Regions from separate parts of the Homo sapiens genome. Here region 2 is linked to region 1. The links come from fine-mapping of genetic effects on gene expression. A gene starts in region 1. The other region holds a variant in brackets. All regions are shown on one strand. Distances are from middle to middle.

Evidence for each region.
Region 2: its variant is fine-mapped to the expression of ECT2L in left ventricle (GTEx, PIP 0.90).

The regions. Positions count from the first base shown.
Region 1 is chr6:138,791,463-138,806,617 of GRCh38, reverse strand. It overlaps ECT2L (epithelial cell transforming 2 like), which reads right to left and starts at 10,531. Exons shown (of 22, transcript NM_001077706.3): 1 at 10,426-10,531. It overlaps CCDC28A (coiled-coil domain containing 28A), which reads right to left. Exons shown (of 6, transcript NM_015439.3): 6 at 13,299-13,869. The coding sequence ends at 13,815.
Region 2 is chr6:138,866,159-138,881,672 of GRCh38, reverse strand. ECT2L (epithelial cell transforming 2 like) reads right to left here. Exons shown (of 22, transcript NM_001077706.3): 13 at 13,467-13,570; 14 at 5,115-5,201; 15 at 502-716. Among named protein-coding and RNA genes, the nearest start is that of ECT2L, 78 kb to the right of the region's middle. The variant T/C (reference allele first, on the strand shown) is at 10,068.

The DNA.
Region 1 (15,155 bases):
TCGCTTGAACCTGGGAGGTGGAGGTGGCAGTGAGTTGAGATTTCACCACTGCACTCCAGCCTGGGGGACAGAGCGTGACTCCATCTCAAAAAAAAAAAAAAAAAAAGCGTGAATTTTCAGCTGCACAGGGGATTTGTGCCCCTAACTCCCACATTGGTCAAGGGTCAACTGTAAAAGAGTTTCAAAGAATCTTAAAGTCCTTGTCCCATAGCACCCCAATCCATAGCCCAAAGCAGAGAAGGACCTGTCTCAAAGAGACTTGTGGATATAGCTTTTGTCTAATAGAATAAATTACAATTACATATATACAAAGCCCACAAAATTGTTAAGAGGCTTGTTCTCATGAAAGCATGGCCAGCTTGAAGTAAGAAGGACCAAGAAATTTTGAAATAAAAAGTCTCTGAGCTACCATTTTAAGCTGGGTGTCTGGGGAAACAGATAATGTGTCTTTTGAGCTCACAGGTCTCCAGATTGAGAGGAGTTATGAACAAGGAGCCTCATTTGCAACTGGACCTGACGGAGATCACAAGAGACTGGGCTTCAAGCCTCATACCATAATTGGAAGACCCTTTGGTGGTGTCTTGGTATGAAATAAAGGTATTCTGTGTGCTGCAACTGTGACTTGTGGCCAGAGGGAGGGACACAGTATATTGTCTGTGCACATGGCCAGGAACAATTGCTCCCATCCCTGTACCCACATACCAGTTCTCCATCAAGAGGTGGAGTCTATTCTTCTCCCTCTCCTTGAATCAATCTGCACTACCACTGTCTTGTTTTAACCAATGATGTTGTGGAAGTGATGATGTGTGACTTCTGGGCATGGACCTTAAGAAGACTTATACCTTCTGTTTTTGAACTCTTGGAATCCAGCTGCCATGTAAATAAGCCTGGGCTGGGATACTGGATGACAAGAGACCATATGGAGAGAGTTTGAGCCAGCCCCCAGCTGTTTCAGCCACCCCCGTCAAAGCACCAGATGTGCAAATGAAGTCATCTTGGATATTTCAGTTGCAACTAAGCTCCCATGTGCAACCACATGAATCACCCCAGCCCCCTACATACAAAGAGAAGAACTGCCCAGCTGAGGCCAGCCAACCCATAGAATTGTGAAAAATAACACGTTTCCTATTTCAAGCTACTAAACTTTGGAATGGTTTGTTATCCAGAACAGACTGACAAAGCCATGTGTTGGTGAGCATCCAGAGCTCTCACACAGCTGGTGAAAGTGCAAATTGGTATATGTACTTTGAAAAACTATTTGGCGTTATTTCTAGAATAATGCCAAACTTGACCCAACTGGAAAAAATATACATGTGGACTAAAATATATCACCAAGAAGATGCACAGCTGCACTGGATAGCTCCAAACTGGAGACAACCCAAGCATCCACCAGTAGTCCAGTGGATAAATCTACTGTCATGCATTCACGCAATAGAATACTATACGTCAATGAAACGAACAGCCTGCTGCTACACAAAACAGTAAGGATGAATCACACAATATATTACACAGAGGAAGCTGCGAATAAAATAATACATGTGGCACGGGTTCATTTACCAAAGTTCTACCCTGTAGTGTTAGACGTCAAGATAAGGTTTACCTGTGGGGAGGAAAGAGAGGGTAATGATTGGGAGGGGACACAAGAGGTTATTCTGCATGCTGGTGCTGACGTAGAGAGGGAGCCCTAGACTTCCCTGCGTGCTGTGATTCATTGAACGTTACACTCATGATCTGCGTGTTTTTCTATGTCCTGTATTTCAATCAAGAAGTTTATAAAATGATATTTACAATAACATCAAGTACCACTAAGTACCTGGAAAAAATTAAGAGTGCCAACTTTATGAAGAAAATTATAAAACTTTATTGAAAAATACTTTTAAAGTCCTAAATAAATGGAGAGATATGTCTTATTCATGGATTAGGGGACTCAGTAGAGTGAAGAGATTAACTCCCTCAACTTGATCTACAGATTCAATGCAATCTCAGTAACAAATTCCAAGAAATATTGTGTGTGTGTGTGTGTGTGTGTGTGTGTTTAAAACTTCAAAGCTGATTCTAAAATATTTATGGAACTTTAAAGTGCCAAAACCAGTAGTCTTGATAAACAAGGAAGGGAGCTGTGTTTCTAGATACCAAGACTTACTATAAAGCTGTAGTAATAAGATAATAAAGGTATTAGTTTGGGGACAGACAACAAAACCTGTGGAACAGAAGAGAAACTCCAAAATAGACCCAGGTATACAGGGACACTTGTTAGATGACAAATCAGAAAGGGAAGGGTGGATTGTTTCATTTATAGAAAACGGAATATCTGTTTTATAAAAGAAAAGAAATTGGACCCCTTTCTCACACTATATACACACGCATCAACTATCTAAAATTTTTTCATATGTATAAAATCAATTACGCATGGTCTGTGAATCCCCAGAAGACAAAATTAGGAACAGTGGATGATGTCAGAGAGGAAGATTTTGGCTCAATCTAAGTGGGAAAAAAATCACTCCACAGCTCTCGCTGTCTCCAGAGATTATGTCCATTACTGGAGTTGGTAAAACTCAAGGTGGACAACCACTTGTCAGTGATTTTCTAGCTGGGATACAAGCATCACAAACATTTAAGTTTCTAAGCAACCCTCTGTTGCTATAAATTCCAAGAAGAGAGAGTACAACGTGGCTTGGTGTAGCTGAAGAAACTTTATTAAAGAGTCAGAATAATTCTAGAATAAGACAGACATTTGCAGTGCCTCTGCTCTTATTACACTTCAAGAGAAGAAGCACATTTTTTCAATGAATATATTAGAAAGGCATGTATCATATTAGGAACAATTTTAGAAATGTTACAGACGAGCAGCATGGCATAGTGAGCACCAGATTTGGATCTCTGCTTTGACTCCCCAAAATTGAGGCTTTACAAGTGATTTAGTATTTGGGCCTCAGTTTCCTCATGTGTAAAGCCAGACAGTAATGTGTCTTGGCAAACTATATTATAATAATGTGTTGTTCAGATAAAAACCTCTTGGCAATATGGGAAATTAAATACCTCCTTCTGAATCAACACTAAATGAAAACAAATTCTTAGTTTCTTAAGATGCCCAGCTGTTGTTATGTGAAATCCAAGAGCCAACATATGGGATTTTTATTTAGCAAGTTCGCAAAATTGTTATTATACTCTGTGTTAAGGGATTACTGAGTTATATAATGAGCTGAACATTACAGAAAGAATAGTCGCTGTCTCTGCTGGTGGGCTTAAATATGTGAGCATAGTATAGTATATTGTGTGTGTGTGTGTGTGTGTGTGTGTACATGCATATATGTACAAATTTGAACAGGATTATTTTCTTTTTCTCTTTCCTTTTTTTTTTTAGAGTTGGGATTTCACTGTGTTGTTCAGACTGGAGTGCTTTGGCACAATCATGGTTACTGCAGCCTCAAATTTCTGCCTCAAGTGATTCTCTGGCCTCAGCCTCCCGGGTAGCTGGGGCTACAGGCATAACCAACTGCTCCTGGCTCAGGGTTATTATCATTATTATTTTTTTTTTTTTGAGACAGTCTCTCTCTGTGTCGCCCAGGTTGGAGTGCAAGTGGTGCAATCTCGGCTCACTGCAATGTCTGCCTTCTGGGTTCAAGCGATTTTCCTGCCTCAGCTTCCTGAGTAGCTGGGATTACAGGTGCACACCACCATGCCTGGCTAATTTTTGTATTTTCAGTAGAGATGGGGTTTCACCATGTTGGCCAGGCTGTCTCGAACTCCTGGCCTCAAGTGATCCACCCACCTCGGCCTCCCAAAGTGCTGGGATTACAGGCATGAGCCACCTTGCACTGCCTGCCTCATATTATTTTGATTATGTGAAGATATTAATTTCGTTGACTATTCAACCCAGGGAGAAATGGCAGCCTGGCAATTACTACTTCTTTAATGGAATAATTTCTTTTCCTATTCTAGCTTTTTACATTCCTCCAAATAGTAGTTCCATAAGATATTAATGAGTATTTCCCCAGAAAACAGGATCTGTGATTAAATGATTGAGATATTAAACTTATTTCTTTTTTGTAGGATGTTTTGGATGTTTTAATATGCTTAATGTTCACAACGAATCTTCAAAAGGGGAAAATAATATCCAGCATTTTCCCTTGTTCATTGTTATATGGAGACTATCACAGTGTGTATTGATTATCTAATGGGGTTATCATACTGTTTATTTAATGCTGTGTAACAAATTGTCCCAAAACTCAGTGGCTTAAAATAACAAACACTTATTATCTCACAGTTTCTATGAGTGACAAGTGTAGACATAGCTTAGCTGGGTCCCCCAGCTTAGGGTCTCTCACCATTCAACTGTCAGCTGAGGATGCCACAGCTGGACTGGGGAAGAATTAACTTCCAAGCTCACATAACTGATTGTTGGAGGGATACAGTTCCTCCTAAACTGTTGGAATGAGAGACTCAGTTCTTCGCTGGTTGTTGGCCACAGGCTCCCCTCCCATGTGGGCCTCTCTATAGTTTAGCTCACAAAATGGCAACTCACTTCCACCCAAGTGAGTGAGCAAGAGAGCAAGAGCGGGCAGGCAAGATGGAAGCCGGAGCCCTTGTGTGGCGTAACCTCAGAAGTGACAAGTGACACACCATCACTTTTTGATTCATCAGAACCGGGGTTTAGCAAACACAGTCAGCAGGCCACATCTGGCCCACCACCAGATTTTATAAAGTAATTGGGATACAGACAATCTCATTTATGTATTATCTGTGGTTGCTTTTCTTTAATAAATTTCATTTATGAGTCTCCTGTTTTCCTACTGTTTCCATATTTACTCAGTATTTTTCTTCATCTACTTACTGGAGAATTTTTTTTCTTTTTTCTTTTTTGAGACAGAGTCTCGCTCTGTCACCCAGACTGGAGTGCAGTGGCATGATCTTGGCTCACTGCAACTTCCACCTCCCTGGTTCAAGCAATTCCCCTGCCTCAGCCTCCTGAGTAGCTGGGATTACAGGTGCATGCCACCATGCCTGGCTAATGTTTTTTGTATTTTCAGTAGAGACGGGGTTTCACCATGTTGGCCAGACTGGTCTCGGACTCCTGACCTCAGGCAATCTGCCCACTTCAGCCTCCCAAAGTGCTGGGATTACAGGTGTGGGCCACCGCACCTGGCCTCTGTGGTTGATTTTTTGGCTACAACAAAATTAAGTAATTGGGAGGAAGACCATATGGCTCAGAAAGCAAAAAATATTTATTATCTGGGCCTTTACTGAAAAAGTTTGTCAACTCCTGCATTATAGGTGTCTACCCACATCTAAGGGGAGTGGATTCACATAAGGCATATAGACCAGGAAGCTGAGGTCATTGGGAGCCATTTTAGAAGCTTCCTCCCACAATAGTGTCTGCCATAGGATAGGTATTTGGCAAGTATTTGCTGAATGAGTAAATGGATAATTGTTGTATAATTGCAGTTTAAACCATAATTGCTATGGTTTGAATGTGTCACCTCCAAATATCAGGTTTTGAACCTTAATGGCCAATGTAATGATAGTAAGAGGTTGGGCCTTTAAGAGATAGGTCATGAGGGCTCCTTCCCTTGTGAACTGGAATTCAGACCCTTACAAGGCTTCACACAGCATTCACCTCATTTACCCTTCCACCTTCTGCCATGTGAGGGCAGAGCATTCCTCCCCTGCGGAGAATGCAACAACAAGGCATCGTCTTGGAAGCAGAGAGCAGCCCTCACCAACCAACCAGACCTGTCAGCACCTTGACCTTGGATTTACCAACCTCCAGAACTGTGAGAAATACATTCCTATTCTTTATAAATTACCCAGTCTCAGGTATTTTATTATAGCAGCACAAACAGAGACATGCATCTGCCAATTTTCCAAATTCAGGGGCTAAAAAAGCAAGTTATTAGTAAGAAAAAAACAAATTCCTTCACTATTAGGATTTGACAACTGTGTCACAACTGTGACAACTTATCAACTCTGTGATCTTCTTACTAGCAATTTCCATCATTATGTTAAATGAGTCATATGGTAAAATAAGCTTAGAATTGAATTAAATGTAGATTTGACAGATTATTCTTTCATGACATCAGCAAATTAGAAAAAATGGAAGCATTTTAAGGGATTCATTTGAGATAAGAATTCATTCTGGGGCAAGAATATTTATTGTGCATTCTGGTTACAATACAGCAGTCACCAGTATCTTCTATATACCAAGAGAGGCTCAAAACCTTAGTGTATAAAACCAAACTCTCAACCATTTTCCATCCTTTCTGTGTGTCTTTTCTACAGAAGCTAAAATACTGTGCCATGAAGTTTTTCCTTGATCATTTAAGAATGATCTTGTTCTTCTACAAAGTGGCATGTCTCTACTGGAAAAAACATTGTGGCTGCCATCTCACAGCCCAGCTTTTTACTTTGAATTGAAACTCCAGTGTGGGTGATGTAAACTGGAGGCCCCTTTGTTATCTCGCTCTGAAAAGCAGGGGCCTAAATGCTTCTAAAGTCTGTTGCAAGAAAGGAATAAAATAGAAGACCCCAATCTGTGTCTCTCCTCATTTGCAACTGGATCCAACAAACATGCTAAGTAACAAGATCAAAATGGGGAGGGGGGCGTGTAATAAATGTTGTATTTAACATCTTAATTTTTGTTTGAGTGTCTACACTGACTGACACGGCACTAGAAAATCTCTTCCCCCATACACTGGCTCATTGAATCTTCAGATTCACCCTGGGAGTTAGATTATACAAGAGAAGAACATGGCAGAGAAAATCATCCAGTCGGCATGCAGTGGCTCACACTTGTAATCCAGGCATTTTGGGAGGCCAGAGTGGGTGGATTGTTTGAGCTCAGGAGTTCCAGATCAGCCTGGCCAATATGGCAAAGCCCCATCTGTACAAAAATTAGCCAGGTGTGGCGGCATTCACCTGTAGTCCTAGCTAGTTGGGAGGCTGGAATGGGAGGACTCCTTGAGCCCAGGAGGCGGAGGTTACAGTGAACCAAGGTCCAAGATTGTGCCACTGCTCTCCAGCCTGGGCGATACAGTGAGACCCTGACTCAAAAAAAAAGAAAAGAGGCCGGGCGCGGTGGCTCACGCCTGCAATCCCAGCACTTTGGGAGGCCAAGGCGGGCGGATCATGAGGTCAGGAGATCGAGACCATCCTGGCTAACACAGTGAAACCCCGTCTCTACTAAAAATGCAAAAAAAATAAGCCGGGCGTGGTGGCGGGTGCCTGTAGTCCCAGCTACTCCGGAGGCTGAGGCAGGAGAATGGCATGAACCCGGGAGGCGGAGCTTGCAGTGAGCCGAGATCGTGCCACTGCACTCCAGCCTGGGTGACAGAGCGAGACTCCGTCTCAAAAAAAAAAAAATCAGAAAATCATCCAAGGTTACACAGGTAGTAATTGCCTATCAAGTTTCAAAATTATACTAGATTTTTCCTGAAGGGTAAGTTTAATTTGAATTGGATATAAAAGGATATTAAAAGAAAAACTTCAGCCGAATTAAATTTACAGGAGTTTAATTGAGCAATGGACGATTCGTGAATCAGGCAGCTCCCAGAATCACAGCAGATTCAGAGAGACTCCCGGAGTGGCTTGTGGTCAGAACAAATTTATACACAAAAAAATGAAGTGATGTACAGAAATCAGAAATTAGGTACAGAAACAGCTGGATTGGTTACAGCTCAGCATTTGCCTTATTTGAACACAGTTTGAACACTCAGCAGTGTATGAGTGGTTGAAGTACGGCTCCTGGGATTGGCCAAGACTCAGCGATTATTACAGGCACATACTCCTAAGTTAGGTTTTCATTCTTGTCTACCTATTAAATTAGGTTGCAATTCACCCACAAGCATTCAAATATAAAAGTACAGAGTCCATCTTAGGCCATATTTAGTTTGCTTTAACAACTGCTACGGATGTATTTGGAAATACACTTCTATGTCGTGGCTGACTATCCTTTACAACTGGTATATTGATGAGGAACTCGGAAATTGACATTGGCACTTCCATGCTTAGTCAAAAGAAGGATGGGGCCTGTTGTGTGACAACCTGTGATATGGTAGAATAATAAGAAATATATATATTTGATCTTTGTCCCTGGTTCCTGACATACAGCTCCTAAAACTCTTGTAGATAGGGATGCTAGGAGAATCTTTTGTTCTAATATTTGGTTTTTGACCCCAGTTCCTGACACAGAGCTCCGAAATCCCTTGGAATTTCCTGGGTGATAGGAGCATCTTTTGTTCAGATGAAGTGAATCTTGGTGGACCCCTAGATAGCTTCAGGATGGGGGCTGGTTACCAGGGAAACCAACCATGTGATTATGCAGCTGGAACTTTCAGCTCCATCCTCTGACCTCTGGGGAAGAGAGAAGGGCTCAAGTTGAGTGATCACCAATGGCCAATGATGTCATCAATTGTGCCTATGAATGAATCCTCCATTAAAATCCCAAAGGACAAGATTCAGGGATCTTTGGGATAGCTGAACATGTGGAGGGGCTGAGAAGGCATGGAAGTTCCACACCCTTGCCCACATACCTTTCTCTGGGCCTCTCTTCTATCTGGCTATTCATCTGTCCTTTGTAATATCCTTTATAATAAATGGGCAAACATAAGTAAAGTGTTTCCTTGAATTCCGTGAGTCACTCTAGCAAATTAATCAAACCGGAGGAGGGGCTTGTGGGAATCCAGATTTGTAACTGGTTGGTTAATCATAAACAACATATAGTCACAACCTGGGACTTGTGATTGGCATTTGAAGTGGGGGGCAGTCTTTTGGGACTGAGCCCTGAACGTATGGGATCTGACACTAACTCCAGGTACACAGTGTCAGAACTGGGTTAAATTATAGGACGTAGAGTTGGTGGCCACTGGAGAATTGGTTGTCGGTGGGAAGAAATTCCCATACATTTTGGTGACAAGAGGTGAAGGGCTGTACTGAGTGTGTGAGAGTAAAGAGAAAAAAGTTTTTTGTTTTTTTTTTCCTCTCAGAACAACCAAAGCCAGATTAAAAGATGAAATGGCTGAACAATTGCCAGCCCATATAGAGAGCTAAATCCTCACTGGGATCACACAGAAGAGCAATGATGTCAATTAACTGTGTTTCCACAGGTTATCTGTTATACAGCTGGAGAAATGCAAGTTAGTCTGGTCCTTCTCCACTACAGTAGACAGAGTGGCTTAGAAATTAAAACACTGCTCCTCGGCAGAGGTATGTACCTACATGCGCGTACTTCTGCAATTCACACATGCAAATTGTGCAATGATTCCTTTATTTATCAAAAATTTACTTCCTTAAATATGCCTCCAAAAAGGTATCTGGTTCTAAAGATCGCACAAAAGAACGGGAGTAGAAGAAAAGTAAGTGTGATTGGTGAAAAAACAGAAATGAAAGACAATTCCAGTTGAGTTAAATGTCCCACATTTAGGGCATGTAAAACTACATGCCAGTATATAATTTTTATTAAGTACACACTAAGCAATGGATAATGAAAATAATGGCGTGTTTTGAGGAAACCTGGGCTATTGATCTTACAGGCGGTGATAGAAAATACCATACTTGTGCTGGTATTTTCAAATGGTGGATGTGCTCACTGATTTATAAGTTTAAAGCTATAAAACTAAAGCTGTAACAAACAAGATGCAACTGTTGCTATAAAACTTCCAAGTCCTTAACCCTTCTTCCTCCCACTGAAATAAGTGTTTGTAGAGCATGATTTTTGAGGTTTCTGTGGAGCACAAATGTCAGTTCCTGCAGAACAGACTTTAACAGGCTTGGATACAATTGCATGGGTTGCAGTGAACTTTAACACCAATGATGTCAGGATATTGTGTTCTGATACATATGCAAAGTTTATTAATAAGCACAGCATCGGTATTTTTAAATCGATATTTTAAAGTACCACTGTTTTATTTGTCCTGCTCATCAAATCTTAGCATATTAACTCTTAGAGCTATCCTTATAACCAAGACCTATATTCACAGTAGATTTTTTGTATTCCTCCCTCATTCCCCCAACCCAGCCCCCACCCTACTCCCTACATTTTTGGACCCCATAGGAGGAAAGAGGGAGAGAACTGTCAGAAGGAAGAAGGCAGTTGGTGTGAACCTATGAAAATCAGCGTTTTCCAAAGTGTTCAAGAACTTTACTTCGATCCCAAATCAGTTCTCTGGAGGAGGTAAGAGTTTACTTGGCATGGCCCGATGCAAACCCTACCCTACGCGTGGATTTTGTTTCTCCCCAGAGCCTCTTCAGAATCTTGGTTAATTCCAGAGCTGCTAAGGGACTCCAGGGTCGCGGAGGGAGGGCCCTGCGCCCCTCAGCGCTGCTTAGGGTCTTCCTGGGCGACTGCACTGGGAAACTAAGCCGGCCCAGGCGATGTGCCCCGGGCGGCCCCAAGAAAAAGACTAGCGGCTCAGAAGCCACGGGCTTTACCTCTAGGAAGTGGCTATGAGGCCCGGTACAGTGGCGGCTGTCTCCTCTTGGAACCGCGCAGTGAAAATCGAGTGCGCCAACTCGGGCCGCAGCTCCGGAGAGGGGTGGGGCAGGGACAGGGTCATCTCCATAGGGATCCAACAACACGGAGCCACCACCCCGCCCCACAGGCCCGCAGCCCCTCCCGCCGCCGCGCCCGGACGGCCAACCTGCATCTCCCCAGCTGCAGTGAGCAAAGCCGCCCGCGCCGTGCGAGCCACCGCCCTTCTCTTGAGGCCAGCTAGGCTCGGGTCCCGGCTCCTTTCCCTGCCTCCAGGGAGCTTGCGGTGGGAGAAAGCTTCCGTGGGGTCCCGTGGGTCGCGGCACGTCTCGGAAGCCCTGCGAGGTGCCCAGCAGAGGTGCCAGACCCAAGGCCGTGGGACCCCAAGAAGAGACTTGGACACTGAAGCCAACGTTTGCTTGATCTCAAACAAAGCCAGCGATGTTAATTAAGGCTGTGTGATGAGGAAAGTGGAGTTTCTTATTTTTTGTCACATTCATCTTCAGCAGATCCTCAGAAAATGTTAATATTTACTGCAGAATTACCAATTTCAGCATTATACAGGAGGTACAAAAACAAAACCAAAAAACCCTTCTTCATTAGTTTCAGGTCAAAATGTCTTTTAACTATTTATTGTGAAGCCTGTTTTTTTCTTTTGTATGTAATAGTTATGGCCATGAAAAGATGCTCACAGTACATTACTTACAAAAAGCAGCTTAGAAAACCAGCAGAATGGTACGATCTATTTTTTTTGCAACGTGTGTAAGAAATCTGGGAGTATGTACACAAATAGGTTAAATGGTTTGCTCTGGTAGTTTTAAAAATCATCTGTAATTCAATTTTTCCTACAACGAATAAGCAACATCTATGTAATAAACCATAAGTTTCATTCTAGTAAAGTTTCATATGAGAAATGTGATCTTGCTATGCTGCCTAGGCTGGAGTGCAGTGGCTATTCACAGGCCTGGTCATTGTGCACTATATTTTTATTTTTATTTCAAATATCTTTTTCTTTTTCATCTGTATGCCAGTAAAATCATCATTGTACACTATAGCCTAGAACTCCTGGGCTCAAGCAATCCTCCCGCCTCAGCCTCCAGAGTAGCTAAAAGTACTGGTGCCTGTCACCAAACCAGGCCTTAAATTTTATTCTAATCCAGGCACTGCATTTTTTCCTGTTTCCTTGAACATGTGTTTAAGGAGTGTGAAAGGATACAAATTAGATAAGCTAATATTTCGCTACCTGGGACCCATTTAGGGCCCTGTGACACAAAGGGCGAATGAACCAAGTGAATAAACAAGGTCAATCCACTGCTCTGTCACAACCCGCAGGAACCAGCTTTTTGCTTTACTCTATCTCAGGACCAATCCAAGAAAAACATGTCACATGACAAAGTGTCCTTTCGCCCTGTCAGACCCTAGAGTACGACTTTTTCCCCCTTAAATCCCTATTCTCACAACCCAAATGAAGTTTCCTCCATGATGCTGTAATTTTTAAAAGGGGTATTAAAAAGACCAATTTACTGATCAAAATACTTTGAATTCAGAAAGCCAAAAATTATTAAAATCAAGATTTGAAAAATATTCAGTAAGTCCCTCTCCTCCCCTCCCCCAATTAGGTGCTTATTTCTGTGGCCTGGAAACAAGGAGACAGAAGCATGAGCATCTTCTGCAACACAAAGGTAACTGAGTTATAAATAAGCAAAATGTGTTCTATCCATACCATGGCATATGATCAGCCAAAACAAGAAATGAAGTACATGCAATAACATGGATGAAGCTTCAATCCTTGAAAACATCATGCTAAGTAAACGAAACCAGTCACAAAAGGCCACGTATTGTATGATTCCATTTATATAAAATGTCTAGAATAGAAAATCCAGAGAGCTGGAAAGGAGGTTAGTGGCTGCCAAAGGCTGAGGGGATTAGGGGACAAGGAGTGACTGTTAATGGGATTCTTTTTAGTGTGATGAAAATGTTCTAGAATTAGATCACGGTGATGGGTATATAACTCTATGAATCTACTAACAATCACTGAATTGTACACTTTAAAGGGGTACATTTTATGACATAAATTATTGTTTCAATAAAGCTGTTTTTAAAGGGTGATGAAATTAATGTTTACTGAGCATTACTGGTATCAGCTATTGTGCTAGGCATCTCTCTTTTTTTTTTTTTTTTTGAGACAGAGTCTTGCTCTGTCGCCTAGGCTAGAGTGCAGTGGCACAATTTCGGCTCACTGCAACCTCTCTGCCTCCTGAGTTCAAGCAATTCCTGTGTCTCAGCCTCCCTGATAGTTGGGATTACAGGAGCCCGCCACCACGTCCGGCTAATTTGTGTGTATGTGTTTTTAGTGGAGATGGGGTTTCACCATGTTGGCCGGTCTGGGTATTGAACCCCTGACCTCAAGTGATCCACCTGCCTCAGCCTCCCAAAGTGCTGGGATTATAGGCGTGAGCTACCGTGCCCGGCTTGTGCTAAGCATCCTATACGCGCTTTTTCACTTACTCCCCATACAACAACTACCAACTTGGTTACTGACCTCATTTTCTAGATTTAAAAAAAAAAAAAAGAAAAAAGAAAAAAATCCAACCTGAGTAAACGTGCATGAACACAAAGTTAAGGGGGCAGAACGGCGATTCAAATTAAGGTGTAAGTAACTTTAAAGCTCACATTCTTTCATCACACCAGTATTTAAATGTACACAAGGTACAGAATTTGCAAGGAGTTCAAGAACCTCAAATTTTATAAACACAGTTTACTTTTAAGGATTGAACCCTTGTATTTCCCAGATTGAAGACTATATGGGTTTCTTCAAAACAGACAACAGAGATTAATTTAAAACAATTACTTTATTAAAAAATAGCAAATCTCACAAATACTTATTTAATTTCTTATCACTGGCCATTGGAAAACACACCAGCATGTGTACTGATTGTCTAACATAAACTGAAGCTGGGCTTGCCACAAGACGCCTGTGCATCAACAGCTTGCGATCAACACTGGAATAAGTTTGGTGAGCTCAGGAAAGAGAAATCCCTCCGCCCTGTCAAGAACATCAGCACAATGCATTTCAAGTATAATCCCATAAGGCAACAATATGAAGCACAGCAGCACAATCTCTGCGTCACATTTCCTGATGAAGCCTTCAACAAGGCCTAGGCCTCCAGTTATGGTGAATTACAGCGAGTCACATTTACTAAAAGCAGTAAGTGAAAACGATCATTGAACTTGCACTTTAATTACTTTAATTCCTTGTTGTGGAAGATGATTCTGCTACTGGATTTGGCTGGAAAAGTAAAGACTGCTGCTTCTCTTCAAATCACAAGAAAGCAAACTACATTTCATTTTAGCTAGCAGAAGTATTTGGAACATCTTGTGCATCTGCCAAATGGAGTTTTTGTCTGAATTAATCAGTTAAGAAGATTTTCATTCTATAAGGGGTACTTCTTTTACATTTCTGAAAATTACATTCAGGAGCAAAGAGAAAGCGGTATTTAAAAAAGAGATATGTTCAAAGGAAAAGCTCTTGTGTTGCTACTGAGACACTCAGATGTGGTAAGACAACTTTTAAATGTAGTAAATTATACTCTTGTCTAGAATTTGAAGACTTTTTTTTTTTTAAATTTTAGAGATAAGGACTCACTTTGTTTCCCTGGCTGGAATGCAGTAATACGATCATACTTCACTGTAGCCTTGAACTCCTGGGCTCAAGCAATCCTCCCACCTCAGCCTCCCAAAGGCATGTGCCAACATACCTGGCTAATTTTTCTATTCTTTGTTAGAGATGGGGGAGGAGTCTGGCTATGTTGCCCAGGCTGGTCTTGAACTCCTGGCCTCAAGCAACCTTCCTGCCTCGGCCTCCCAAAGTGCTGGGATTACAGGTGCGAGCCACCACACCTGGCCCAGAGTTATTTTTAATGTGTCAATAATCATTTTCATAGTAAGGAGCTGATTAGAGACAAACATGACAAGACACTAGATTAAAAAAATCTTTTGAGAAGACACCACTTTATCATCTTTGGGAAAACAATTCTGTTTAAAAGTCCAAAAATAAAATCATTACAGCTCTAAAATCTTTTCTATAATTCTCTTAATTGTTCCTCAAGAAGACTGGAAATAGGACGGGAATCTTGCATGAATTACTCATCCCTTATTATAATCACTGTCTTTCATTTTTCTCACTGACCTGTATTTATCCACCTGTTACTTATTTTTCAAGACCCAATTCAATGATATGAATACACTGAAGGCAACTAAATGCTTGCAGTACATGTATGGCAGAGGTTGCAAAAATGTACAGACATAAGCACTGCCATCAAAGACATTCTTGTCCAATTGGAAGGCTGAGATTTAACACATGTAAAAATCAACAGATAATAATATAAGGCAGAATGCTAGGTTAAGGTACAAATGAAATCCTTTATGGAAGTGGTCAGCTTGAATGTAACGTGATAAGGAGAACAAGGAGGTGAGAGTAACTCTAGGTAGGAGGTACAACCTGAACAAACGCATTATGATGAGAATGAACATGATGTGTTTCTTGGGCATCCAGAAAACCAGCCTGAGGGGAATGAAAAAGAATGAAAAATACAACAGCATGTGCATACAGGTTGTGACCAAATTATTAAGAACCTTTAAAATAGTTGACATGGTTTAAAAAAAATGGTAAAAAATAGAAATGGCAGGA
Region 2 (15,514 bases), 75 kb before region 1:
ATCTGTCCTTGTCTCCCATCATCCCAAGACGGGACCATCTAGTTGCAGGAAAACAAGCTCAGGGCTCCCACTGGTTTACATTATGGTGAGTTGTATAATTATTTTATTATATATTATAATATAATAGAAATAAAGTGCACAATAACTGTAATGCACTTGAATCATCCTGAAACCATTCCCCCCACCCCTGCTCTGTGTAAATATTGTCTTCCATGAAACTGGTTCCTGGTGCCAAAAAGGTTGGGGATCACTGGGTTACAAAATGCCTAGGTCCTGAACACCACTCCTTGCACCATGGCTATGAACGGGGGAAGGGGTGTCCTTGGGAATCACTACTGGTTGCAGCCCGGTAGGTAATGTGATGAGGATCTCGCTGCTATAATCAGGGTCCCTAAGAGGGTCAGAGCATCATTGCACCTCCATACTGCTTTTGAAACAATAAAGCATGGGCTCTTCTCAGTGCACAATGAATATTAAAAAAAATACATATTCAGGGTTTACCTGTTGAGACTTAAAATCTGTAGAATGTCACAGAAAATGATCTGGATATTGGCAGCACTCAGAATCGCTCTGTTTGATGACAATGCTGCTTTCAGTGGTGCGACATAAACATCTCTCACAATTTCCAGTATCTGCACGTATTTTCTCTCACTCTGTAAGAGTTCTCTGACAACTCTAGCTCGCTTTTCTGCTGAGTCCTTCTGGAGTATTCTCTCCTGTAGAGAAGTGTTAAGAACTCAAGTCAGTGATGGAGAAGTAGAAGTGCTGAGCAGTCAGGCAGCTACACGGAGACCCCCCTTGCTGGTTTGTGCTGTTCAGGTTGAAGGGGACTTCACGGGGGCTACGGAGGACCCCGCTGTCCATCACTTGTCCCTAGTATCATCAAAGAGCCCCTCATATGGGGCCAGCCTGATGGCCAAGTAGAGAAGGGACTTTTAATCTTGGATCTAAAGGAAGGCAGTTTGAAACTTATTTTTATCCATCTGTCCATCCAAATCCATATTAGGTGTCTTATGCTGGTGCTGGCCATGTAATGATGAGAACAAGACAGAGTCCTGTCTTCATGGAGGTTACAGTCTAGTGAGGAAGACTTTGGCTTGTCTACTCTTGTTTGTTTTCCTATTTCTTTTTCCAAGTAGTGTTTTATTGATTATCTTGCAAACAGAAGAACTGAAATGAGCTAGCCCTCTGCTACAGTTTGAATGTGTCCCCTCCAAAATTCAGGTGTAGCCAATGTGACAGTATTAAGAAGTGGAGTCATGAAAACATGGCTGGGTCATGAGGACTCCTCCTTCATGAATGGGATCAGGTGCCCTTAGAAAGGGGCTTGGCAGAGGGAGTTGGTCCTCTCTTGCCTTCCACCATGTGAGCACTCCAAGAGAAGGCCCTTGACAGATGTTAGCATCTTGATCTTAGACTTCCCAGCCTCCATAAAGAATTTCTGTTCTTTGCAAATTACCCAGTCTCAGGTATTCTACTGCAGCAGCATGAACAGGTGAAGACACCTTTTCATTATTAACTAATTTGCTTCCCCAGCTGACATATGAAAAATCTGAAGCATATGCTCTTCTTTCAGTATTAAGGATCTAACTTCAGTATGAAGGATAGACTTGGAGCTATGAGCCCATCTCTCCTGGCTAGCCAGGTTGCCAGATGTGCTATGTTATGTTTCCAACTGTTGTTTTGTGTATTTATTTATTTTATTTTATTTTTTTCTTTTGATATGGAGTCTTACTCTCTTTTCCAGGCTGGAGTGCAGTGGTGTGATCTCAGCTCACTGCAACCTCCGCCTCCTGGGTTCAAGCAATTCTCCTGCCTCAGCCTCCCGAGTAGCTGGGACTACAGGTGCATGCCACCATGCCCAGCTAATTTTTGTGTTTTTGGTAGAGACGGGGTTTCACCATGTTGGCCAGAATGTTCTCGATCTCTTGACCTTGTGATCCACCCACCTCAGCCTCCCAAAGTGCTGGGATTACAGGCATGAGCCACCTTGCCCAGCCTCTTGTTTTATTTTTTAATGCAGAGGTGAAAATCATACACTGGCCTAAAGAAATTCCATACCCTGATGTTGTGTGTGCTATGTTTATATGGAGAGAGAAATTAATTTTTATTGCTGGTACTAGATAATTTTTTTCTTTTATTTGCATATTTCAAAAGCTATAAAATGAGCATCTTTATACCAGAAAATTTATAATATCTAAATTTCAAAAACATAATGTCCTTCAATTTTAGCCTAGAATTATTATTTTCCCTCCAGCCCTAAGTATACCCCACACTGCCCCCAATAAAATATGACAATACTGCTTCTGCCACTTGTGCTGCTTGCGGACCTGAGGTGACTCCAGCACTCAGCATGGTGAACAGAAAGCTCAAGGAAGGGTCAGAACTGCTCATATTAATTTTAGGGTGGTGGGCAGGATGGTTCCTTGGTGCAATTTAAGATTAACAGGCATACACCACTTAGTAAACTAATGAAAGCCTATTGTGAATAGCAAGGCTTGTCAATGAGGCGGATCAGATTCCAATTTGTCAGATGGCCAATCAATGAAACAGACACACCTGCAGAGTTGGAAGTGGAGGTTAAAGATACAATTGATGTGTTTCAGCAGCAGGCAGGAGGGGTCCAGTAAAAAGAGAACTTGCTATTTTACGCCAGAGGCTATTCTTACAGACCAAGACTGCATTCTCAACTAAAAAACTGCAATCTGGTTCCACTACATCCTAACTATTACAGTATAGTTTGCTCTATTCTTTCATTTCCTTCCCCATTCCTTTATTGTACATAAGGTAACTGATGAATATGCACAAGCATTTTTAAAAAAATTAGTGGCTAATGGTATGGCTAATGTATTCGTGGCTAATGGTATACCATCAACATCAAATGGAGATGAGAAGGGGAAAAATGCTTCTGTGAAAAGACCTCCTTGGCCACGTGCGGTGGCTCATGCCTGTAATCCCAGCACCTTGGGAGGCTGAGGCGGGTGGATCACCTGAGCTCAGGAGTTCGAGACCAGCCTGACCAACATGGCAAAACTCTGTCTCTACTAAAAATACAAAAATTAGCTGGGTGTGGTAGCACATGCCTGTAATCCCAGCTACTCAGGAGGCTGAGGCAGTAGAATCACTGGAACCTGGGAGGCAGAGGTTGCAGTGAGCCGAGGTCATGCCACCGCACTCCAGCCTGGGCAACAGAGCGAGACTCCATCTCAAAAAACAAAAACAAAAACAAAAGGACCTCCTTTCTCCCTTCGTGGCATGCTCATTCAGCAGTTATCTTTATATTCCAATCTGTTATCTTGCTCTCATTGTTTTAACAACAGCAATATATGTATATATGTATGTGTGTGTGTGTGTGTGTGTGTGTGTATATATATATGTATCTAAATCCTTGCATACCTTGTTCAATTGGAGAATTCTCATGTTTTTCATTTATCATTGTAACACAAAGGGCACATTTTATAACGTTTTCGTACATACCTCTTATATGTAGGGCAATCTGTCTTTAAGTGAGGATCCATTAGTTGATAAAAATGATTACCAGATAGTTTTTCCTTCAAGTCAAACACCTTGTTGTTTAAATAAGTGCCTTGTTTAAAATGAAAAAATGTGTAATGCTATGTGATCTTCACCAAGATGAGTTAACCATAATTTCATTAACTGGAATTATAATGTAAAAAAACTTAAGAGAAAAATGAGAGAACTCACTGTATTTGAAATATTATAAACACACTCTTCTTTTTTTACATTTTTTATTTTGAGACAGGGTCTCCCTCTGTCACCCAGGCTGAAGTGCAGTAGTGCACTCATGGCTCACTGCAGCCTCGACCTCCCGGGCTCAAGCAATCCTCCTGCCTCAGCCACCAGAGTAGCCACCACAACAGGCTAATTTTTGTAATTTTTTTGTAGAGACAGGGTTTTTCTATGTTGCCCAGGCTGGTCTCAAACTCCTCTGCTTAAGCGATGCACCTGCCTTGGCCTCCGAAAGTGCTGGGATTACAAACATGAGCTGCCAAACTCTTCTTGTTTATTTTCCAAACACATGGTCTGTCTAGAATACCTATTTAGACATATCTAATAAGGTAAAAAATACATCTGCATCCTACTTGGCAGTTGGCTTACAGTCCATATTATTTTTTTAATATTATATGTGTATTTCTGTATGTATATATTTTTACATATTGGAGTTATCCAACATTTATAATCATTTTGAACTAAGGTTTTCATTGTCAAACCTTGTGTTGTTATCTTGAAACCACTATGAGGTATTATTACTAATAGTCAGATGAGATACCCTCATATCCACTGCTCTATGGAACATGCTCCTCCTGGGTGTTCCTAGGGATGGGTTTGGGGCAAGTGGGCATCCATGTCCTGGGGCTCCACGGCCTGCACTGTCTGCAGCCAGGGTGTCTGGGGCTGGGAAAGAGCCCCAGGTCTGAGCTCAGGGCTGCAGGACTTAAGATTTTTCTTGCCCAATTGTCTGGCCTTAGGGAAGTCATTTGACTTTTTTCCCCCATGTAACTTTTCTTAACTCTAGTTCTTTATCTATAAAATGTGGCTAGGGATGTGTCCTTTATAGGATTCTGAGAATGAAAGGTGATAATAAGTGTGTTTGTGTGTTGAAGAAAACAAAACAGTGTGCCCATGCCGTGGGTTACACAGGACGAGACCGGCCCCTGCTGAGGCTGCAGCTTCCTCCACACTTTACCCTTGACACAGAAAGACGGAGCCCTAGACATTGTGTTCATTAGATTCAACTTTTGAAGTCAGACTGTAAGTTGGTAGATTAATTAGAAACTGTGAGCCTTTGTCCATGTGCCATTTCTTTAAAAGACATCCTAGTACCATAAAGGAAAGTCAGGGAGTAACATACAGATTGGTTTTGCTCCAAGATGTTACACTGCTATCCTTCTGGCTCAACTTCTTTTCAGTCTGGGGCTTATTTGAAAAAAAAGTCTGCCAGCTGAATTCTCTCTAATAATTTTTGAGGTTTTTTTTTTTTAATCCCCCAAAGGGAAATTTTCAAGGAAAATGAAGAACTAACCAGAATAAAGGCTGAAATTTCACTATCAGGAGCAAAACCAATGGTAAAGTTACATTATATAATAGCTTACCAGATTAATCAGTGCTTCAAAATTTAAATCATTTTTGCTGAGCCTGGACTTTGTGTCCCAAGAATTGTCTTCTACAACATTTCTTTCCTGAAGATTGAATGGAAACTTGGTTATTGGAGGCAGGTCTTGACATCTCTGAAAACTCAGTACTGTGCCCGCAGGAGGCCCTCAGAAGCCTCTGCCTTCAGCCCCAACCACAGTGTTCCCTACACACAATGAGTTAAGTGCTTGCAAATGGGATGCCACTCTTACATTCAATTTTATGTTTTTTAAAAATAGCCTTTGCTTCTTTTGAACTACATAATACTTGAGAACTAAATCCAGCGTAGCTCCCTCTTCCTTGGGAGCCAGGGAAGTGATGCTGGGCTGGGGCTCCTCCCAGGCTTAAAGACTCACACACATTCCTGGGTAACAGACTTCTTTTTTTTTTTTTCTTTTTCTTGAGATGGAGTCTCACTCTCGCCCAGGCTGGAGTGCAATGGCACAATCTCGGCTCACTGCAACCTCCGCCTCCCAGGTTCAAGCGATTCTCCTGCCTCAGCCTCCTGAGTAGCAGGCTTACAGGGCCCACTACCACGCCCCACTAATTTTTGTATTTTTAGTAGAGATGGGGTTTCACCATGTTGGCCAGGCTGGTCTGGAACTCCTGACCTCAGGTAATCTGCCCGCCTTGGCCTCCCAAAGTGCTGGGATTACAGGCATGAGCCACCAAGTCTGGCCAGGTAACAGGTTTTTGCCTCAGCTCTGCTCTGTTCCTTCTCAGTTGAGGGCAAATAGGTTATTTTTATTTTTAAGATCCAGAAGGAAAAGCTCACAAAACTCACTCCTTTTTTCACCACCAAGTGAAAATGTGTCATAAACAGTTCACATAACCTTTCTAGACCTGCACATTTAAATAAGGCTTATTCTTTCTTCACTTTACCTTGTTAACTATTCTTGCTGTGGCCTCTCTCAAACTTAGCACATTTTTTTAAAGCCCTCCACCCCCACCCCTGCTGCCTGCAGTACCCCAGGGTCTACCCTAGCAACACAGCAGTGGTCCTGTGTTTATGTTGAGGGATGATGATGGTCAATGGTCGTTATTGCTGCCTTCCTCATCAAAGACAAAACTACCAATGGCAACCCTTGGATGTCCAGGGATGAGGCTGGAAGAATAACTTCAATTTGTAACCAAGGCTCCTTTTACCTTACTCTACTGAGGCAAAAGCGAATTTTTATTTTGGAGATGCCACATTGCTCTGGCAGCCTGAGCCTCTGCAGAAGAACCCTGGTCTGCAAACCTGCAGCCAGCTAGCTCAGTCCCAGATGGCAGGAGGTCCCACCTGAGCCTGAGTGCTTCCTGTCTGCTCCAGGGAGTCTTCTAATGATTTCTTTTGTCCTCTGCACTTGTGGCTGTCTCATACCAGCCTGGCATGTATCCATACTTATGGCTTGGAGCCAGGGAGGAGATCTACTTGTTTTTGTTTTGTTTTGAGACAGGGTCTCACTCTTTCACCCATGCTGGAGTGCAGTGGTGCAATATTTGCTCACTGCAGCCTCGACCTCCCAAGCTCAATTGATCTCCCACCTCAACCTCCCAAGTAGCTGGGACTACAGGCATGTGCCACCATGCCTGGCTAATTTTGTTCATTTTTTTTTAGAGACAAGGTCTCACTATGTTGCCCAGGCTGGTCTCAAATTCAAGTGTTCCTCCTGCCTTGGGATCCCAAAGTGATGGGATTACAGGTGTGAGCCACTGTGCCCAGCCAGTATCTTGCACTCCAGCGTGGATGATGGAGTGAGACTGTCTCAAAAAACAAAAACAAAACTCTCAGGTTGGGCCAAGATTAAGATAACCCAAACAGCACACAATTGTATTGTGGATCTCACAGATAAGGGAGCCATCTTTCTCTGGGAGATCACCTGACTGTACAGGCTCACATGAAAATTTATGCATTAAAATTCAGGTGTCATCATGGACCCCCCCAGACCACCTTGGCTATTTTAGAACCTGCTCGCTTACAGTTGGGCTTTGTTTCACATTCCGGCTCAGCAGCAACTTACTTTTTTAAATATAATTTTTTCTTTGTGGATAGGACATTGATTTGGCATAGTAATTTTGTTTGAACCTAAAATTGGCAAGTTCACTCATTTTATATTATATGTTTAATTGCCAGAATTTTTACAGCTTAATTTTAGATTCCGATGCTATCTTTTACTTAGTTTTTATGGATGAATTCAGAGGAAGTAACATGGCAGAAACTTTGCACATTTATAAGACAACTATCATTCTGGGTTGGTGGGTCTTTGCCTTGGCTCTGCGGGACATATAAGGAAGACCATTAAAAAAAAGCTCACAAAGAACATGTTAGGAATTTTTCTCTAGGATGGAGCATGGGCAGACACTATTTTCCAGAGACATTCTAGTCATTGTTGATGCTTCTGCCAGCAAACACTCAGCTGCCTGGATAAGGGGCCAGAAATAGTTGTGAAAATGACAGGTAGAGTTCAGGAACAACTATAATTCTGGCGGGCAGCCATCACCATGGTTGCATGGTATCAGTGTAAACATTATAGGCAGACAAAAACCAGGAGCAAATAATGATTGGGCAGCAGGATGATAGGTAGGTAGGTAGGTGGATGGATAGATGGATACATGGATGGACACACACACACACACACACACACACACACACACACACACACAGTCCTGGATTTGACAGATAATCCGTATTACACAAGCCTCTCTGGGAGGGTTTGTTTTTTTTGTTTTGTTTATTTTTTTGAGACAAAGTCTTGCTCTTGTCGCCCAGGCTGGAGTGCAGTGCTGCAATCTTGGCTCACTGCAACCTCTGCCTCCCAAGTTCAAGGGATTCTCCTGCCTCAGACTCCCGAGTAGCTGGGATTACAGGCGCCCACCACCAGGCCCAGCTAATTTTTGTATTTTTAGTAGAGACGGGGTTTCACCTTGTTGGCCAGACTGGTCTCAAACTCCTGACCTCAGGTGATCCACCCACCTCGGCCTCCCAAAGTGCCGGGATTACAGGCGTGAGCCGCTGCTCCCGGCTGGAAGGGTCTTTAAAGCAATTATCTCAGAGAAGCTTTCATTTTCCCCTCCTTTGTCTCCTGAGGCTTCTGAATGAATATCCAGTTTTAAAAATAAACCCTAATGTAAGGAAAATCAGCTTTTCTATTTTTATCCTAATGCAACACTGACGTTTAGCTGTGGTTCTTCCTCCTAGAGGTCTCCGCATTTGTTCTGTGGGCTTTGTGCCCAAGCTCTTTAGTGTTAAATAGTAGAGAATCAAATGAGAATCTAATATGTATTTTTTTCTAATTCGATTTTTTTTAATCAAATTTCCAGGCATTAAGGAGTTTTGCATTTTTCCAGTTTTATTACAGGCAGACAATGTAGCAATAGAGGGCCTGATTTCCAGCAATGAGGAACTTTCAGCCCAAATTTCATGCATTATTTTATGAACATAATGAGCTGTTCGGATCAATAGCCAGTTGAAAAGACTTCATTCATTTTGAATTTTATTTGGCAGAGGAACTAGAGGAGAAAGTGCCTCAGAGGAACTGCTCCAAGTGATCATTCCCTTAGGTTTCAATGAGCCCAGAAATGGTTCTCACCAAGAGTTAGGTCTTTCACATGTGAGAGTGGCACTTCAGAGGAGGAAGCACCTTAGTTTGGTCCTTATTGCTTTCTTGCTCCAAAGAGGGGGTTTTCTGGGATCTGTATGCCTGGGTTTCGAGGTAATAGCTTCACCCTTAGGAATAAAGGTGGGTGAAAGAATCCAATAAGGATTCCAGGGAGTCAGGAATCAGCAGATGTTGAAAGGACTTTGGAAGAATTTGGAACCTGTGTAATGTGGTTATATGTTGATCATTCCCTTTAGTGAACCAAGGGAAAATGAGTGGTATTAGAGGCCTGGGTGCTGTTTTTCAGGTTTTCATAGGCTAAAGGATGGATGGAGACTATGTCCACCCTTTTGGGAGAATAATCTCCAAGAATTTCAAAGAGATGGTGGCTGGCATAATGAAATGAAAGCAGCAGCCTCTGAGAAGCAGAAAGAGGAGTCTGGACTAAATGCCCATCTGGCGTTCCCACCCTGGGGTTCCCATCCCAGCCCGTGCGTTCTGTTAACAGGTGCTAATCATGCTGCACCACCTATTTGTGTATCAGCCTCATCCTCCACAAAGGCAGGAACTGTCTTACTTTGCTGTCTAGTCCCAGGATTTAGCAGAAGGTCTAGCATGTGGTTAGCTGGTTAGCTCCTGCAAATATTTAGAGAATGGAACTAAAAAGATGAGGAATTGCCCTCTGCCTGAGAAGTTTCCTGAAAATACCGATTTGGGGGCAGGGCAGCCAGCAAGCAGGGCTTCAACCTGTAAAGGGCTTAGATATCCCTGGAAAGGCATTTAGACTCCTCTTGGGATGGCCAGGCGTGGTGGCTCAGGCCTGTAATCCCAGCACATTGGGAGGCTGAGACAGGAGGATGGCTTCAGCCCAGGAGTTCAAGGCTATGGTGAGCTATAATTGTGCCACTGTACCCCAGCATGGGGTGACAGAGCGAGGCCCCATCTCAAAAAAAAAAATTAAAAAATAAAATAAAGACTCCTGTCTCAGGGAGTTGCTTGTGTTTGGGAAGAATAAGCCACTTGGGCACTTTGTCGGGGAGGGGAGGATTAAAGTAAGGGTTGTGCTATGGTAACAGCAGAAGGGTAGGGTTTTTTGTTGTTGTTGTTTTGTTTTTTTTTGTTTGTTTGTTTTTGAGATAGGGTCTCACTCTATGGCCCAGGCTGGAGTGCAATGGCGCGATCTTGGCTCACTACAACCTCTACCTCCCTGGTTCAGCGATTCTCCTGCCTCAGCCTCCCAAGTAGCTGGAACTACAGGTGTGCCCCACCATGCCTGGCTAATTTTAGTATTTTTAGTAGAGACGGGGTCTCACCATGTTGGCCAGGCTGGTC[T/C]CAAATTCCTGGCCTCAAGTGATCCACCCACCTCTGCCTCCCAAAGGGCTGGGATTACAGACGTGAGCCACTGCGCCTGGCCAAGGATGGGTCTTAATGACGGCAGGCCGTGTGCTGCTGAGTTCATTTGGGGCAGCAGGCAGAGGGAATGCTGCCTCCAGCAGTTCTCTATGTCTGCTCCTGCCCTGCCCTGCACTGTCCTTTAAAGAAGCATTAACAAATACTTCCAGAATATCAGGTTAATAGGGCAACAAATGATTTGCCTGCTAGAGGTGCTCACAAGTCTCTTACTCCTAGCAGCCCTCCATGGTGAGATTATGTTAGGGACTGCCATCCTACGCCTTCAAACATCAAAGACAGGTGACTTTCCTATGGACATAAAATGGTTCTAAAACAGTATTTTCCCCTACATAGAAATCAGTTATGTGAACGACAATGTAATTCTCAGCATTTCTTGAATCCTGGTTATTTCATGTAAACAAGAATGCTTGGATTCCTAATATAGTACTGGCAAAATTATTCTTTTTGGCCTGATGAACTAGTTTTATTTATTTACGACAGAGTCTCACTCTGTCACCCAGGGTGGAGTAAAGTGGTGCGATCTTGGCTCACTGCAACCTCTGCTCACTGAACCTCCCCGGGTTCAAGCAAACCTTGGCTCACTGAACCCCCCTGGGTTCAAGTGATTCTCCTGCCTCAGCCTCCTGAGTAGCTGGGATTATAGGCATGCCACGATGCCCAGCTAATTTTTGTATTTTTAGTAGAGACGGGGTTTCACCATGTTGGCCAGGCTGGTCTCAAACTCCTGACCTCAAATGATCTGCCCGCCTGGGCCTCCCAAAGTGCTGGGATTGCAAGCGTGAGCCACCGCGCCCAGCCAGAACTCGCTTTAAACCCATTTTTTTCTTTAATGAATTTGAATCTCAACTAAGAAAAAAAAGAACTATTCTTAGTTTCACCTCCCTCAAAAAAAAATTCCCCTTAAGTTCTCTCAGGGCTCATAAATGTCAAAGCAAAATGCAAATTTCTACCTTTCTCCCCACAACCAAATAGTGTTACTCAAGTTAACATGTTGCAGTTTATGCTTTTAAGCGGCTTAAATGTTACTCATATTATGAAACTACAAAACACCCTATTTTAGTAATACTTCATGAAAATAAAATTCTTTGGAGAAATGACAAGTTAAAGCTTCCCAGTAGAGCTCATATAATGATTTATGAATTTCTTTATCACATGTGCCTAACTCTACAGAAAAGCAATGGCATAAAAATTCAGCAGCAACTTTACCTTCATGAATAAACTGAATGTTGTCTTTGGGTCACATTTTGTTGGAATAACATTTCCTTCAACATCTTTGATCTTTTTGCCACATTTCTTCAGCAGAAAATACGACAAAAATTCCAGAGGTTTGTCCTAAAGAATGCCCAACCCCCCCGCAAGAAAAATGCCCATTTAAAACATTCTTCTGAAATACAGATGTCAATACTGCAGCAGAAGAGAGAGCACACTTTTTAGCAGGGATTTCAGCTTTCTACCTAATTAATTGACATGTCCAGAAAACAGAGTGACTAGTGCTCAATTCAAGTCAGTACATGAGACTTTCTAGTTCATCTCATATTCCAGTTACCATATGTACTCTTGGTTCTCAACAATTTGTCACAATCCAGTTAAGACACCAAAATTTTATGGGAGGGTCTCTCAAGATCTTTGGAACCAAAGTGGCCCACACCAACCCCTTGGCCAAATGAGGAAACGGGACAGGAAGGATCTTGTTGTCTTTCAGGGGGAGGAAGAAGGCCTGGGAGAGAGGCTGCAGTAGCAGAATTGCTGGGAAAACATGCTGGGGCTCTCAAATTTGGTTCCCCTCAGGCTATAGGTTTGAGCACCATCCAAATTATATCATACATGGTTATTTTTAAATAATTAGGTGGAAATAAGTACACTGAACTGACACCAAGCATGCTGAGTAATCCTTCAGTGTTTTGGCAGACAGTGAGGGGGCACCTCTGTGAATATCCCTGCTCATTTTATCAGCAAGGCTCGCCAAAGGCCTTTCGTCATTGGGCTGCCTGAGCCTCACTGCAGAGCTGAGACTTCACAGGAGACAAACTACAGCTAATGCAGCTTCGCAGCCCCCACCCAGTGCAGGACAGCTACGCCCAGAAATGCCTGGTGCAGACCCAGGAAGCCACACTGAAACAGGAGCAGATACTCAATAATAAGGAGAGAGAGAATGTGTGCAGAGACAATGTTAAATTCACCCACAAAGCAGAATTATGATGGTGGAAGAGAAAGATTTGAGACTCTCCTTGAGAATTCCTTGGAAACTAGAGAATTTAGATTATTGAATATGTTAACAGCAGCCCTATCTCCATTCTATTCCCGACTCCCCTCAGAGGGAGAGCTGCACGTTGCCTTTTCTTTTCTTTTTCTTTTTTTGAGACAGAGTCTTGCTTTGTCACCCAGGCTGGAGTGCAATGGCACGATCCCAGCTCACTGCAACCTTCACCTCCTGGGTTCAAACAATTCCCTGGCCTCAGCCCCCTGAGCAGCTGGGATTACAGGTGCCCGCCACCATGCCCGGCTAGTTTTTGTATTTTTAGTAGAGACGGGGTTTCACCATGTTGGCCAGGCTGGTCTCCAACTCCTGATCTCAAATGATCCGCCTGCCTCGGCCTCCCAAAGTGCTGGGATTACAGGCATAAGCCACCACGCCTGGCCACATTGCATTTTCCTATAGCCATGCTGTCCTCTTTGGGGCTGGGAGAGCTGTCTGGAGACTGGCCTCTCCTCACTATTTTCTGAAATGTGGACTGGCTCCTTCTCACTGTTTTCTGAAGTGTAGACTGACCTTAATGAGAGAGAACCTTGGATCTGTGTCTGATGAAATTGTTTCTTTGGGTTTCTCCTACACCCATCCCCAGCCGAATTACTGATTTGCTTCTTTCCGTTCCGTTGTGTTCTCTTTCCCTTCCTCTCTCATCTAGCCCCTTTTCCCGTCATCTTTTCACATCTGGGTCACACTTTCTCAGATTTCTCCTGAAACTAGGAATTGGTTTCTCTGTTGAGTAAAGTTTATGTGAAATATAAAGCCACTAACATGTTTTATTAAAAAAAAAAAAAAGTCACTTCTGACTGAAATTAAGCACAAGACAGAAAACAGGGCACAATGTAATAAACTTTAAATAACCTAGAAGATTTTCCTACTTGTCTGTTTTGTGTACTTAACACATCTTGGGCCCAGAATCTCTTAGTGGCTATTTTTATAAACTGATGTAATTTCTCTGAGGAACTGTGCTCTGAAAGGGATAAACTGGTCAAAAAAATTAATAATAACTGCAAACAGAATTTATTTAAATGTTGGTTTTCATAGTTTACTTTCTTCAAAGAAACACTTACAGAATCTTCTTTTGACAACTCCATCAATCCATCTGCCAGAGCTTGCGCAGTATCTTGGTTGTTTAGAATGTTGGTCATACCCATGGTGTCAAACATAAACTGCCCTGTAAATACAAGGCCACATGCCCTGTAATTGATTTATGTAAGAAATGTGATTTAAAAACAACAACTCAGTCCTCACAGTTTCTTTTTTTTTTTTTTTTTTTTGAGACAGAATCTTACTCTGTTGCCCAGGCTGGGGTGCTGTGGCAAAATCATAGCTCACTGCAGCCTTGATCCAAGTGATCCTCCCACCTCAGCTTCTCAAGTAACTGGGACTATAGGCATGCACCACCATGCCTGCTTAATTTTTTAACTTTTATTTATTTATTTATTTTGAGATGGAGTCTCGCTCTTGTCACCCAGGCTGGAATGCAGTGGCGCAATCTGGGCTCACTGCAACCTCCGCCTCCTGGGTTCAAGCAATTCTCCTTCCTCAGCCTCCTGAGTAGCTAGGATTACAGGTGCCTGCCACCACGCCCAGCTAAATTTTTTTTTTTTTTTTTTTTTTTGTAGTTTTAGGAGAGACCGGGTTTCACCATGTTGGCCAGGCTGGTCTTGAACTCCTGACCTCAAGTGATCCTCCTGCCTTGGCCTCCCAAAGTGCTGGGATTACAGGCGTGAGCCACTGCAGCCAGCCAACTTTTTAACTTTTTGTAGAGATGGGGTCTTGCTGTGTTTCCCAGGCTGGTCTCAAACTCCTGGCCTCAAGCAATCTGCCCACCTCAGCCTCCCAAAGCATTGGGACTACAGACATGAGCCACCGTACTGGACCCACAGTTGTTTTTTTAGTGGATAAAAATGCAAAGAATAGCAGTAAAAATTCTATTATGCAATGAGGATTTCTACTATGATAAAATATAAAATGAACCAAAGTAATTTAAATGTCTAGTCTATAAAAAGTGCCCACTCCGGCAAAGCTGATATTGAATGAAATGTATAAATTGGACAATAAGGAGAGAGCATGTGAAAAGGAGCTCAATAAATTTAAATGTAAGACTCTCGATCCTACCAGGAGTTCCTCTATATTCTCCTTTATCTCTGCGCTCAAGTAGGCATTTGTTTTTTTGTTTTTTTGTTTTTTTGTTTTTTTTGAGACAGGGTCTCATTCTGTTGCCCAGGCTGGAGTGCAGTGACGCGATCTCAGCTCACTGAAACCTCTGCCTCCCTGGCTCAAGCAGTTCTCGTGCCTCAGCCTCCTAAGTAGCTGGGATTACAGGCACACGTCACCAGGCCCAGCTAACTTTTGTATTTTTCTGTGGAGACAGTGTTTTGCCATGTTGCCCAGGCTGGTCTCAAACTCCTGAGCTCAAGCAATCCACCTGCCTTGGCTTCCCAAACTGCTGGGATTACAGGCATGAGCCACTACACCAGGCTTCAAATATATAAATATTTTAAAGTCCAAAGTAAATAACATGCAAACATACATACACGGACATCTTTTAATTTTTAAAATATTTTTAACACCATGCAGTTATTTAAAAAATTGTTTTTCCATTTTCTTCTCATTGCCTACATATATTATTTAATAAATACTCTTATCACTTGAGGTCAGGAGTTCGAGACCAACCTGGCCAACATGGTGAAACCCCGTCTCTACTAAAAATACAAAAAATAGGCTGGGCACGGTGGCTCACACCTGTAATCCTAGCACTTTGGGAGGCCAAGATGGGCAGATCACTTGAGGTCAGGAGTTTGAGACCAGCCTGGCCAACATGGTGAAATCCCATCTCTACTAAAAATGCAAAAATTAGCCGGGCGTGGTGAGGCACACCTGTAATCCCAGCTACTTGGGAGGCCCAGCCTGGGTGACAGAGTAAGACTCCATCTAAAAAATAAAAATAAAATAAAAATTGGCCAGGCATGGCGGTGCATGCCTATAATCCCAGCTACTCAGGAGGCTGAGGGAGGAGAATCCCTTGAACTGGGAGGCAGAGGTTGCAGTGAGCTGAGATCACACCATTGCACTCCAGCCTGGGGACAAGAGCAAAACTCTGTCTCAAAAAAAA